2 separate regions of the Homo sapiens genome follow, and region 1 is linked to region 2. Evidence: fine-mapped expression QTL. A gene starts in region 2. The other region holds a variant in brackets. All regions are shown on one strand. Distances are between the middles of the regions.

Region 1 (5,370 bases), 180 kb before region 2:
CCCTGGGGGTCGTTCATGTACACCTTTCCCTTGAGGACTGGAACTGTGTCTTATTCCTCTTTGTATTTCTACTGCTGATCACGATGTCTGGCCTAGAGTCAATGCTGAGTAAATATTTACCCTACGGTTAGGCAGTGAGTGCAAGAGTGCTTTGCAAAATGTTAGGGCCTAAACATATGTGAGGGATTCTTATCTAATATTCAAGGGTTAGTTAATGGTGACTCTCAGACACTGGCTGGTTCTGAGGACATCTTTCTGGAGAGGTACTTTTCCTTTTTTTTTTTTTTTTTGAGATGGAGTCTTAGTCTGTCACCCAGGCTGGAGTGCAATGGCATGATCTTGGATCACTGCAGCTTCTGCCTCCCAGGCTCAAGCAATTCTCCTGCCTCAGCCTCCTGAGTAGCTGAGATTACAGGCATGCACCACCATACCTGGCTAATTTTTGTATTTTTAGTAGAGATGGGGTTTCACCATGTTGGCCAGGCTGATCTCAAACTCCTGACCTCAAGTGATCCACCCACCTTGGCCTCCTAAAGTGCTGGGATTACAGGCATGAGCCAACACACCCGGCCTGGAGAGGTGTTTTTCTATATCCTTGAGGCTTACTGCAAGGGCTCCTGAAAACCTTTCATGGATGTGCATATACATATGTGTTTGGGGTATGTGATTGTGTGTATGCCTGTGTGTGAGAAGATGTGTGTCTAAGAAGTATCATTTGTCAGCTGAATGTGTGGGTATTTGTGAGTGTGTGCCAGAGTGTAGGTGTTTACATGTATGTGGCAATAAGGGGTCCTGGTCCTAGGCAATGTTAGTCATTGTTCTGCCCCTCTTTCAACCAACCCCCTAACCCCACCTCCCCCAGAGGCTCCCACATCCTCTGAAACTTCTGAGGTGACTTCCTATGTGACCTCTCTCTGTAGGCTGAGGCTCCTCTTTTCTAATGGAACAGAGTTTACCCCCCAGAAAAGGCATTTGGGCCTCAGGAATAGGAATGGGAATGGAGTGGGAGTTTCCACCTGGTCCTCAGCCTCCAGGAAGAGCCTGTGGAATGACTACCAAACCCCACTCTCCCCCTCTCTCATGGCTTCCAGTCTAGGCTACACTCTCCAGGCTCCCTTGCAGCTAGTGTGCCCATGTGACCCTTTCTGGCTAAAGGGATGTGGAGGATGTCATCTGTGCCAGATGATCTGTGCCATCTCTGGGCCAGGTCTTCAGTAGCTCGGGTGCCTTCCCCACACTCCCTTTTCCTTCTGCCAGCTGGACCCTTGGGCAGGATGACAAGGCCTAGAGGGAGGTACGTACTGGGTACCTAAGTCTCCCATAAGGAAGGTCTCCTGATAACCTGGCACACCGCTCTGGACTGTTAGGAAAGTGAGAAATCAAATTTGATTCTGCTTGAGGCTTTACATTATGGCAATTATTTGCAACAGCAGTTGCCTCCCCTGACTAACAGACACCCACAGGTTAGATGAAGTGAGCCTGAAGTATTTGCTATTTAGTAGGTATGTGAGTGAGAGACAGGGTGAATGTGTGTTTGTGTAAGAGGAAGACATTGGTGCTGGTGTCTATACAAGAAATCCTTGCCTTCCTGGAGTTGTCAACAAATACCACCTCTTGTATCTGCATAATTCCTCCAGCCTCCAGCCTCCCCTCTGCCCCACTAGCACCACGCCTTTCTAGGTGCTCTGTCCTCTCCTCCCTCCATCAGTGATGCACCATGGCTGCCTGTTGAGCCTCAGCACTAATTTGGAAGGGCCACATCAGGCTTCCCCTACCCGACCCCTGGCTCTCTGTGTCCTCATTACTGGCTCTTCACAGAACCACTGGCTTGCCACCCTCTCTAGTTAGCCTTGAGATCTCAGACTACATGACATGGCCTCATTAAACCAAGCCAAGCAGCCCTTACTCCCAGATTCTCTCTCTTCCTGCGAGCCCCAAAGGGACCTGTTTGCTTTCATGCATGAGCTGCAAGGGAGTAGAGGAGATGAGTGTTGTTCCATCCTGCATACAATTTATTGAGTACTTACTACGTGCCAGGAACTTGACAGGCAGAGTCTCTTTGATTCTGCATGCTGACTGTATGAGGTAGGAATAATTATCCCCTTATTACAGATGAAGAAACTAAGGCTCAGGCAGATAGAACCCCTGCTCAAGCTCACACAGCTGGAAAGTGGCTGAGCCAGGTCTGCCAGGCCACGGAGCATGATCTTCCCTATGCTGTATTACATTGAATTGAATTGAGCAGAATCAGGATTTAGCAGGAGGCAAGTCTTGGAGTCAGGCCAACTGTTTGCCAGCAATTTAAAAAGAAAAAAATAACATGCCTTACTTTACAATGATAGCTAACATTTATTGAGCACTTACTATGTGTCAAACACTGTTCTGAATATTTTCCATGTATTAGTTAATTTAACCTTGGGAAATCCTGTGAGGGAGGTACTAGTCTTATTATCATTATGGATGAGAAAATCAAGGTTCCAAGACATTAGGTGACTTGACTAAGCTCTCACAGAGAGGAGGATTGTGCTCAGCCAAGATTGAACCCAGCACTTTCACATTTCCTCAATTCATGTTCATGATAACCCCGGGAAGTACATCTAATAATTGTGCTACCTGTTTTAGAGGCAGTGGTTAACTGAACTGCCCTGGGCTCACATAGCTAATTAGAGCCAGAAATGGGACTCCAGTGAATGAGGAGGACAATCTCTCTACTTCGGGACGCATGCTCCTGGGAATTCTGAGGGAAGTGAGGGAACCACGTGGATATCCATGGGCAGAGTTTCCAGGCAGGAAGGAGGTGCCAGTGCAAAGGCCTTGAGGTAGAAACAGTGAGGAGGACGGTGAGGCTGGAACAGAGAGATGGAAAGGGAGAGTAGTAGGAAATGAAGTCACCAAGGTAGTAGATAGGAGCCAGGTTCTTGCAAGTATGTTCACTCTTTGTTCCAACTCTGAGATTGGCTGCTGGGTGCTAATGTTAAGGATTCTGAGGCTGTGTTTAAACTCAGTGGGACAGAGTCCTCTGGAGCCGGTGTCTCATACTTGCTGTTTCTGGCCTAGAGATCAGAGTAGTTAGAATTACCAGAATTACCAGTACAAGTTGTACAGCCTACTGGTGACTAGTGCCAAATGCTGGCCTTCCCTAAGCACCAGGGCCTGAGTGATAATGGGGGAAGCACATGTCTGCTCTTTAGAGTGGGACGATCATGGAGCTGGTGGGATTCAGTGAGGGCTCCAAGGATCAGAAGACTGATCTTCCAGTTGGGGCCAGGGACCAGAGGCCTGGGGTTGGGGGCTGGCCTCTGTCCCTGTTC[T/C]TCTGCCCTTGTGGCTCCTGAGAATATGGAGCTTCCACAAATGCCCTGAGGCACCCCTGCCTTACTGGCAGTTACTTTAGACTCTCAGTGAGTGAAGGGGCCACTTTCCTTTCAATATGATTGAGGCTCTGAGACAAAGCACCCCAATCATTGCCTCAATCCTCAGGTGTACCCGGACATCCACTTCCACAGCCCGCAAGACAGCAGGCAGGGTTGGCATCAGCCCCTGTTGAGTTGGCCTCTGGGTCTGGGTGTCCTTCCTTGCTCCCATCCCCCAGCCTCTTCTCTGCAAGTGGTCAGAGGGATCCTGTTAAAACCCAGGTCACATCCTGTCTTTCTCTGCTCAACCCTGCTCCTGCTCCCAGTGAAGCCCACCTCATGTAGTCAAAGTCCTCACATGGCTCACAGGCCCCAGACAATCTGCCCCTCACCTCTTGGGTTTTGTCTCCTTCTACTCCCCATTCTTACTCTACAATCTGGGCTCCCCACTGCTTCTCAAATCTGCCAAGGGGAATCCTGCCTCAGGACTTTTGCACTGGCTGTTCCCTCTGCCTGGATGCTCTTCCTCCAGATATTTATATGCTAGCTGCTTTGCCTCTTTCAGGTCCCTGTTCCAATATCACGTTCTCAGCGAGGCCATCCCAGATCACGTTATCAACACTGCGGGCTTCCCCAGGCTTGTTACTCCACTCCATTTTTCCCCAATGCATTTTTATTGCCCAACAGACAATATCATTGATTTATTATGATTACTGTTAATTGTCTTTCTCTCTGTCTACTAGAATGTCAGCTCCCTGAGGTCAGAGTTTGTTTGGGTTGTTTTTTTGTTTTTTGTTTTTTGTTTTTTTTTGCCTGTTTTGTTCACTGATAGTTTCCCAACACCTAGAATGATACTTGGCACAGCACAGACCGTTGAAAACATTGGTTGAACTTGCAAATGAAATGAATATTCTACACTGCACTGCCCAATATAGTAGCTGCATGTGGTCATTCAAATTTAACTTCAAATTAATAATAATTGATTAGAATTAAAAATTTAGTTTCTGAGTCATAACAGCCAGATTTCAAGTGCTCAGTAGTCACATGGGGCTAGTGGCTACTGGATTGGACAGTGCCACTGTGTGACATTTCCATCAACACAGGCAGTGCTATTGGATGGTGCTGTTCTAGAACATGCTATGCAGCCCTATCCATGTACCCAGCAAGTGGTATTAACACTGTCATTTTCTATGTGAGCCCTCATGCACCAAACAGGTGGGCCAGTCCAGGTGATGTTGTCCAGCTTTGGGGAGTTCACACAAGGGATGAATTTGTCTTGGAGGCTTTGATCTAGACCTCTGAGCAGTTCCCCATTCTCTCTGAGGCTCTGGACAACTTCATCCCTCCTTTATGACTCTTCCAGTTCTCCATGGTTCCTAAGACCTCTGGGTTCAGCGTGCCCTCTCTGGGATTCTCTCAGGCCTAGCTCAAGCTTATCTGCCCACTGGAGTGTTCTCTCTGCCTCCCATACTCAGCCTGTGCCCCAGCCCCTTCCCAAGGCTTGGCCCCACTGGCAAAGCTGCCTTGCCTTCCCCACAGTCCTCAAATAGGGCCAGCCCTTAGCCAGCCTGTGTCTTTGGGCCCCCTCTGGTCCTTTGTTTCGATATTCTGGTTCCTGCTTTTCTGCCTCTCATGTTCAAGCTACCCAGCTACCCATTACACATCTGACACATTTCTATTGAGAAAAATCCCTCATAGATCCAATAACAATGATAGATGTCATCGGAATACCTGCCATTAGCAAGAGAAGCTGAAGAGGCAGCAGGGTACAGTGGATATGCACACAGGCTCTGGAGTCAGACTGTAGGGTTCCAATCCTGGTTTTGCACATACCAGCTGTAATACCTTATCTTGGGCAAGTTTCTTAATCTCTCTGTGTTTGCTTCCTAGAAATATCCCCTTTCTGTAAAATGGGGCGTTCATAATCTCTGCCTTATAGGGTTGTTATGAGGATTCAAGGAGTCATGATTCATAAAGTACCTAGGTCAGTGCCCGGCACAGAGTAAGCCCCGCATGAGGG
Region 2 (5,370 bases):
AATTTGAACCCAGGCCACCCAAGTTGAGGTTTCATTCCATTATATGACAACTCTATCCCTTCAATAAGTTGGACCCTAAAACTCCACCCCTACCCAAAGGAAAATCACAAAATACTCAAATTGTTGTTGCTCTTGTTCAGAGTCCAATTCCACTTGGCCATCCCAGGTTGTTTATTGCTATATGTCTCTGCTTCCAGTCTAGCAGCCTCCCCCATCAGACTGTGAACTCCCTAGATGCTAATATCTACCTTAGGAAAGGGGAGTTTCTGAAAACAATTAATTCCAATTTCACTTCTCCACTGTCCCTGGGTAGACAGACCCCACGCCAGGAGCTTATAAGCCTCTATACATCCACCCTGCAAAAAAGGAGAGCAGAACCTGCTCAACCCCACAGGCTGAAGAGGCTTGGCAAACTGGCACTTGGAGGCCAGAATCCCTGTTTTTTTTTTTTCCTTTGGAGCTGAAGCAAAGATAAGAAGAGCAATTCCTCCTTCAGTCAAAGAAGGACTCAGTTGGCCAGAAGGCTGCCTGGTTTCCCCGGTGGCCCCACCCACTCTGACTGCATTTTCTTCCCATCTATCTTGCTTCTCCTCCTCAGCCTCACCTCCTGGAAGCTCCCAGCTCACCCTCTCTCAGGCCAGACTCCCCAGCTTCTCACGTTTCTGGGCCTGAGCAAAGAACTGGCACTTCACAGAAGAAGGAGCCCTGAACCCCAGCCTCCAGCCCACAGCAGGCAGGCACCCAGTTCTTCTAGACAGGAGATGGAACTGGGAGCCAACCTTCCAGAGGCTGAAACAGAAATGCCAAGTTTGCTGTTTGCATCCCCAGGATGAGGGCAGGAAGATAAATAATTACATTCCTGGTCAGGAATTAGACCAGAAACTCTAAATTGAGGGCTGGGCAGGGGGCCTGAGCAGAAGCATGTGAGGAGGCCAGAGGGAGATGCAACTCTGCACTCCCAGCCAGAGTCAGAAGGGAAAGATGACATTCCAGCATCAGCAGAAGGGCCCAGGCAGCTGGCATGGTCGGCGGAGGATGACGGCTCCAAGTGCAGGCCTTTTGGAGCTTCTGAATCCTCCCTACAGGACTCTGACCCCCTTCAGCCTCTGATGTACCCCACAAGGAAATGACACTACCCTCAGGGCTCTGCTGTGTGTGGCTATATAAAGCTCCTGCCAGAGGGCAGCGACCAGACCAGGGCACAACCCCAAGACCTAGTTCCCTTGCTCCCCACCTTGAGTTCCAAATCGGCCCCCACACAAGAATAACAGCCCACATAGAACCTCTAGCCCTGGCCCCTGGGAACTTCACAGCCCAGGGAATGGCAGTTTCCTCCCTAGCTTTGCTCCTCCCCAGCAGCAGGGGGTCAAATTCCTGAAGCTTCCCCCTCCCCCAGTACTAGAAGGCCAATCAGGCCATGGAGGCCACAGCTGCCACCTCCCTGAAACATACACATGCGTACACACACACACGCGTACACACACACACACACACACACACTCCATTGTGGCCAGGGGAGGGGGTCATCATCTATAGCCATGCCTGTAACTCCAACTCAAGAGTGCAGGCTCTGACATGTTCCCTGTCCCTGCAGGTGTCTGTCCGTCTGCAGCTGTCTGCTGTCGCCGGGTGCATTTGGCAACAGTCTGGCTCAGTCCCTCTGCGGTCTCCACTCAGGCTCTCTTCTCCCTCCTGCTCTGGTTTTCAGAGGCTCTATCTCCCTAGAACTCTCTGTCTCTGTCCTTTGTACCGGGCTGATGGGAAGACGAGTAGGACACCTCCCTCAGAAGGTCTGTGCAAAGTAAGGCACTGTCCACCTCGGAACGGTCTACTGCTCTCCCTCCTCCCTGCCCAGGCCAACCTTAGAACCAGGGCAGGGCTGGGTGGGAGACAGAGACCTAGGAACCCAGGCATGGCTAATGCCACTTTCCATATTGCTTCATCATGCCATTCTGATGCCCCAAGCTGCACACACACACAATCCCCCTGATCTGCTTTCTGCCTGAGGCCAGCATAGGGTCCCTGAACCTGCCCTACCTGCCCCCACAAACTGCAACCATGCCTTCCTTCCTCCCATCCGCTCTGCATCAACCCTTCCGCACTTGGCTTTACCCCACCCCACCCAGTCCACAGAGCTCAGGGAGTCCCCGGCGCCCCCACCTAGCCCCCAGCAATGGCTCTAGCCAGGCCTTGCATGTGCGGAGATGCAACAGAGTGGTCTGGCGGCAAAGTTCTCCTGCTGTTTTCAACGGTTCCATCCACCCGTGGCTCCCCGTCTCTCCATCCGGCTCTCCAGTCTCACATGGACCCGGCTCTCCCCGCTCCCCGCCAGAGTTTCACCCCCACTGTAGGAAATAAAGACTAAAGAAAGGAAAGGAAATCTCTCGCGATAAGGATGGGCGAAAAGAGAAGGGGGTGTCCGCATGAGCACCTAGGATGCGGGGAGTCTTCAAGAGAAAAAGAAAGGGATGCAAAGTTCCCGGTTCCCTCGGGTGCGTTCAGCCCCGCGCCGAGCTCCCGCGGACACCCGGGATCGCAAAGACGCAGCGCCGGCGACCACTCACCTGGGCGAGGCAGCATCTACCCCCGGCTGGGTGGCACCGAGGCCGGCTCCGCGGGGCGCCCGGGCTCCCCGGCTCGGCCACGCATCCTTCCCCGCCCGAGACAGACTCGAGCTAAACCCTCCGGCGGCTCCGGCGAATGCAGGCAGATGGTGGCCTCGGACGTCCACGCGGGGAAAGCCCTGAGCCGCTTATTCAGTTATATCCATGGCATTTAGCAAGAAGAAGGGGGGAAAAGCACAACTTGTTCTCTTCTCTTCCAGATTAAAGAAAAATAATAATAATAATCCCTCCCTAGGAGGATGCCGGTAGGATTTTCCGGATCGAAGAACCCCAGGCATTCCCAGGAACCTCGGGCATCTTGGAATGTGGGGTGTCTTCAAGTTCAGACGAGCCTGCCGGGTTGTGTATGTGTGAGTGTATGTGTGTCTCAGCGAGAGGGAGCCAGGCACTCACACCCACACGCACACACAAACACACTCCCCCGTACTCCCCGCATGCACACTGCCCCCCACGCGCGCGCGCATACGCGCGTACCCGGTTTCTCTCTCCGCTCCACACACACACACACACACACACGCACACACACACACACACGGATCACACGCTCCAATCTGGGAGGGAGTCGGGCGGGCTGCGGAGACAGCGCAGGGCCAGCAGTGGAGAAAACCCAGCGGCCAGAGGCGCCCAGGAACCCGGCGGCCGTGCGCACCGTCCCCGCCGAGCTCTCCGGCGCGGCAGCCCCCAGTGGCGAACCGCGGAGCTGCAGGAGCCGAAGGCAGCCTCTGCGCCCGCTGCCCTGCCCGCTGCCGAGCGCACCCGCTTCCGAGACGACCAACACCGCCGCGGAAACCAGAGGGATTCACGGTCCTGGCAGGGGTGGCGCGGGGACGCACGGTGGGGCGGGAGTGGGCTGGGGCCGCAGTCGCGGAGGGAGGTGGGCAGGCCGCGAGCCCCGGAACCGGGAGGGCGGTCTCCGCGGTCCAGCGGCACGGGCAGCCCCTGCGGAAGGCGAGCCGGGCGGCCAGGGCTGCACCTCTGCAGCTGGCGACGGCGCTGCCACCTCACGTGCCTAGCGCGCCCTGCAGCCGTCAGCCCGCCGCCTGCTGGAGGAAAACCCGACCGCGCCGGCCCTAGGCTGGGAGTGGGGGCTGGGGCGATCGCGCCCACCCAGTCCTGGGGCCCAGTTCAGATTCTCGAATCCTGGTAAGGGACCTATGAATAACGAGCGCCCCGTGCACGCACACACACGCACTTTGACTTTTCATGATTATTACAAGAATCAGTGAAGGGTGCAGTGGCGCCAAGTGTTTGCACAGCATCTTTACAACTCTTCACTTGTTTGATCTTCTCAGCAACCCTCATTTGATGTATAAGGAAACTGAGGCCCAAAAGAGTAAAGTGACTTGTCCAAGGCATGTGGTAGGTAGCGGAGACCCTACTCAAAGCAGACTGTGAGCTCACAGTCAGAACACCCAGGTCTGGCCAAGGTCTCGTCTTTGGTTATCCTCTCGGTTCACTATAAACAACTAGTTACCAGAAAGGTAGGACCGTCCTCTGCCTTACTGGACTCCCCAAGAGGCATTTCCTTCCTTCTAAAGGAAATGAAATTTTGAGATTCCTGTTGGTACTCCAGCTGGTAAATCCAGGGGCAGGAAGAATGTCAATGTTGCAGTCCTTCTCTTCTCTCCTGGTGGCTAACACATCCCGTGCACCTGTCCCGGTTACCCACAGGGAGGCACATGTTGCATGTGGATGTGTCTCTGCAGCCCAGGATTGGCTCGGCTGGATACATCTGTAACATACGACCCTGTGTCCTCTCTACACACATGCATAACTGCAGAAGCCGAGGCAGCTGGTCCTCATGTGTGCACCCTCCACATGTGCACCCCGGGAAACTGCCAAACTGGCATGCTGCATATCCTTGAAGACAAGCCTCTCCCTGCAGGAATTCTGGAAAGCCTGGTGGGGGAGGGGCATGGCCAAGATGAAACTCAAGGTATATGGGGTGGGCCTTGGAGAGAAGGGATCTAACTCAGGAGCAGGGAGTGAGGGATAGAGGTAGGGAAGAGTCATGAGAAGGAAAGTAATGAGGAAGGAAGAGGTGAGTAAAAGGAGGTGTGGAGTAGAAACTGGGGAGGGCAAGTAGGGAAGAGGAAGGGGAAGGGAAGAAGGAGGGGAGAACAGCAGGGAAACTGCCTTACTCTTTGCTTACCTGAGGGCTTGCCTACTATTGGCGGGAGCTCCCAGGAAGAAAGGCTTAGGAAGAACCACAGCCTGGGCTCAAGCCTTTGAATTCTCCCAAGGGTTGGGGGCAGTGGGCTAGGTTATCTCCCCTAACCCTCAGTCACCCATGAGACAACCAGAACGGAGTGGCAGGGATAGGACCAAGCTGGCACCAGAGTAGAAATGGAGCTGCTTTTAGAAACCAGAAAAGCATTAGAATGATGTGAATGAGGGATATAGGAAGGATGGATCAATCTCTGCTCTAGAGTGAACCCAATACTCCATCAAGAAGTTTTCTCAAGTCAGAAACATGGATATTCCATGAAGAGCCAAGACCTGGGTCATTGGTAATTCTGAGAATTACTGGTTTATTTTTCTAATTACATTTGCCCCAACATAACCTGAGTACTGTGCTGGGGCACAGGTGGCCTGGATGCTCACCATGGCTTTGTATTAACAAGCAATGTGACAAGTCCCTTTTCCTCAAAGGGTTTGGACTGTGCATTTGCTAAGAGCCTTTCCAGCTCTGGGAACCCCCAAGCAACCTTGACAGATGGAGCAGGATGGGGACCACATACATCTT

Evidence for each region.
Region 1: its variant is fine-mapped to the expression of LRFN2 in whole blood (INTERVAL, PIP above 0.99).

Annotation. Positions count from the first base shown.
Region 1 is chr6:40,400,149-40,405,518 of GRCh38, forward strand. All of the region lies in intron 2 of LRFN2 (leucine rich repeat and fibronectin type III domain containing 2), which reads right to left. Among named protein-coding and RNA genes, the nearest start is that of TDRG1, 24 kb to the left of the region's middle. The variant T/C (reference allele first, on the strand shown) is at 3,312.
Region 2 is chr6:40,584,377-40,589,746 of GRCh38, forward strand. LRFN2 (leucine rich repeat and fibronectin type III domain containing 2) reads right to left here and starts at 2,988. Exons shown (of 3, transcript NM_020737.3): 1 at 2,565-2,988. RefSeq lists silencers at 3,161-3,260, 3,351-3,420.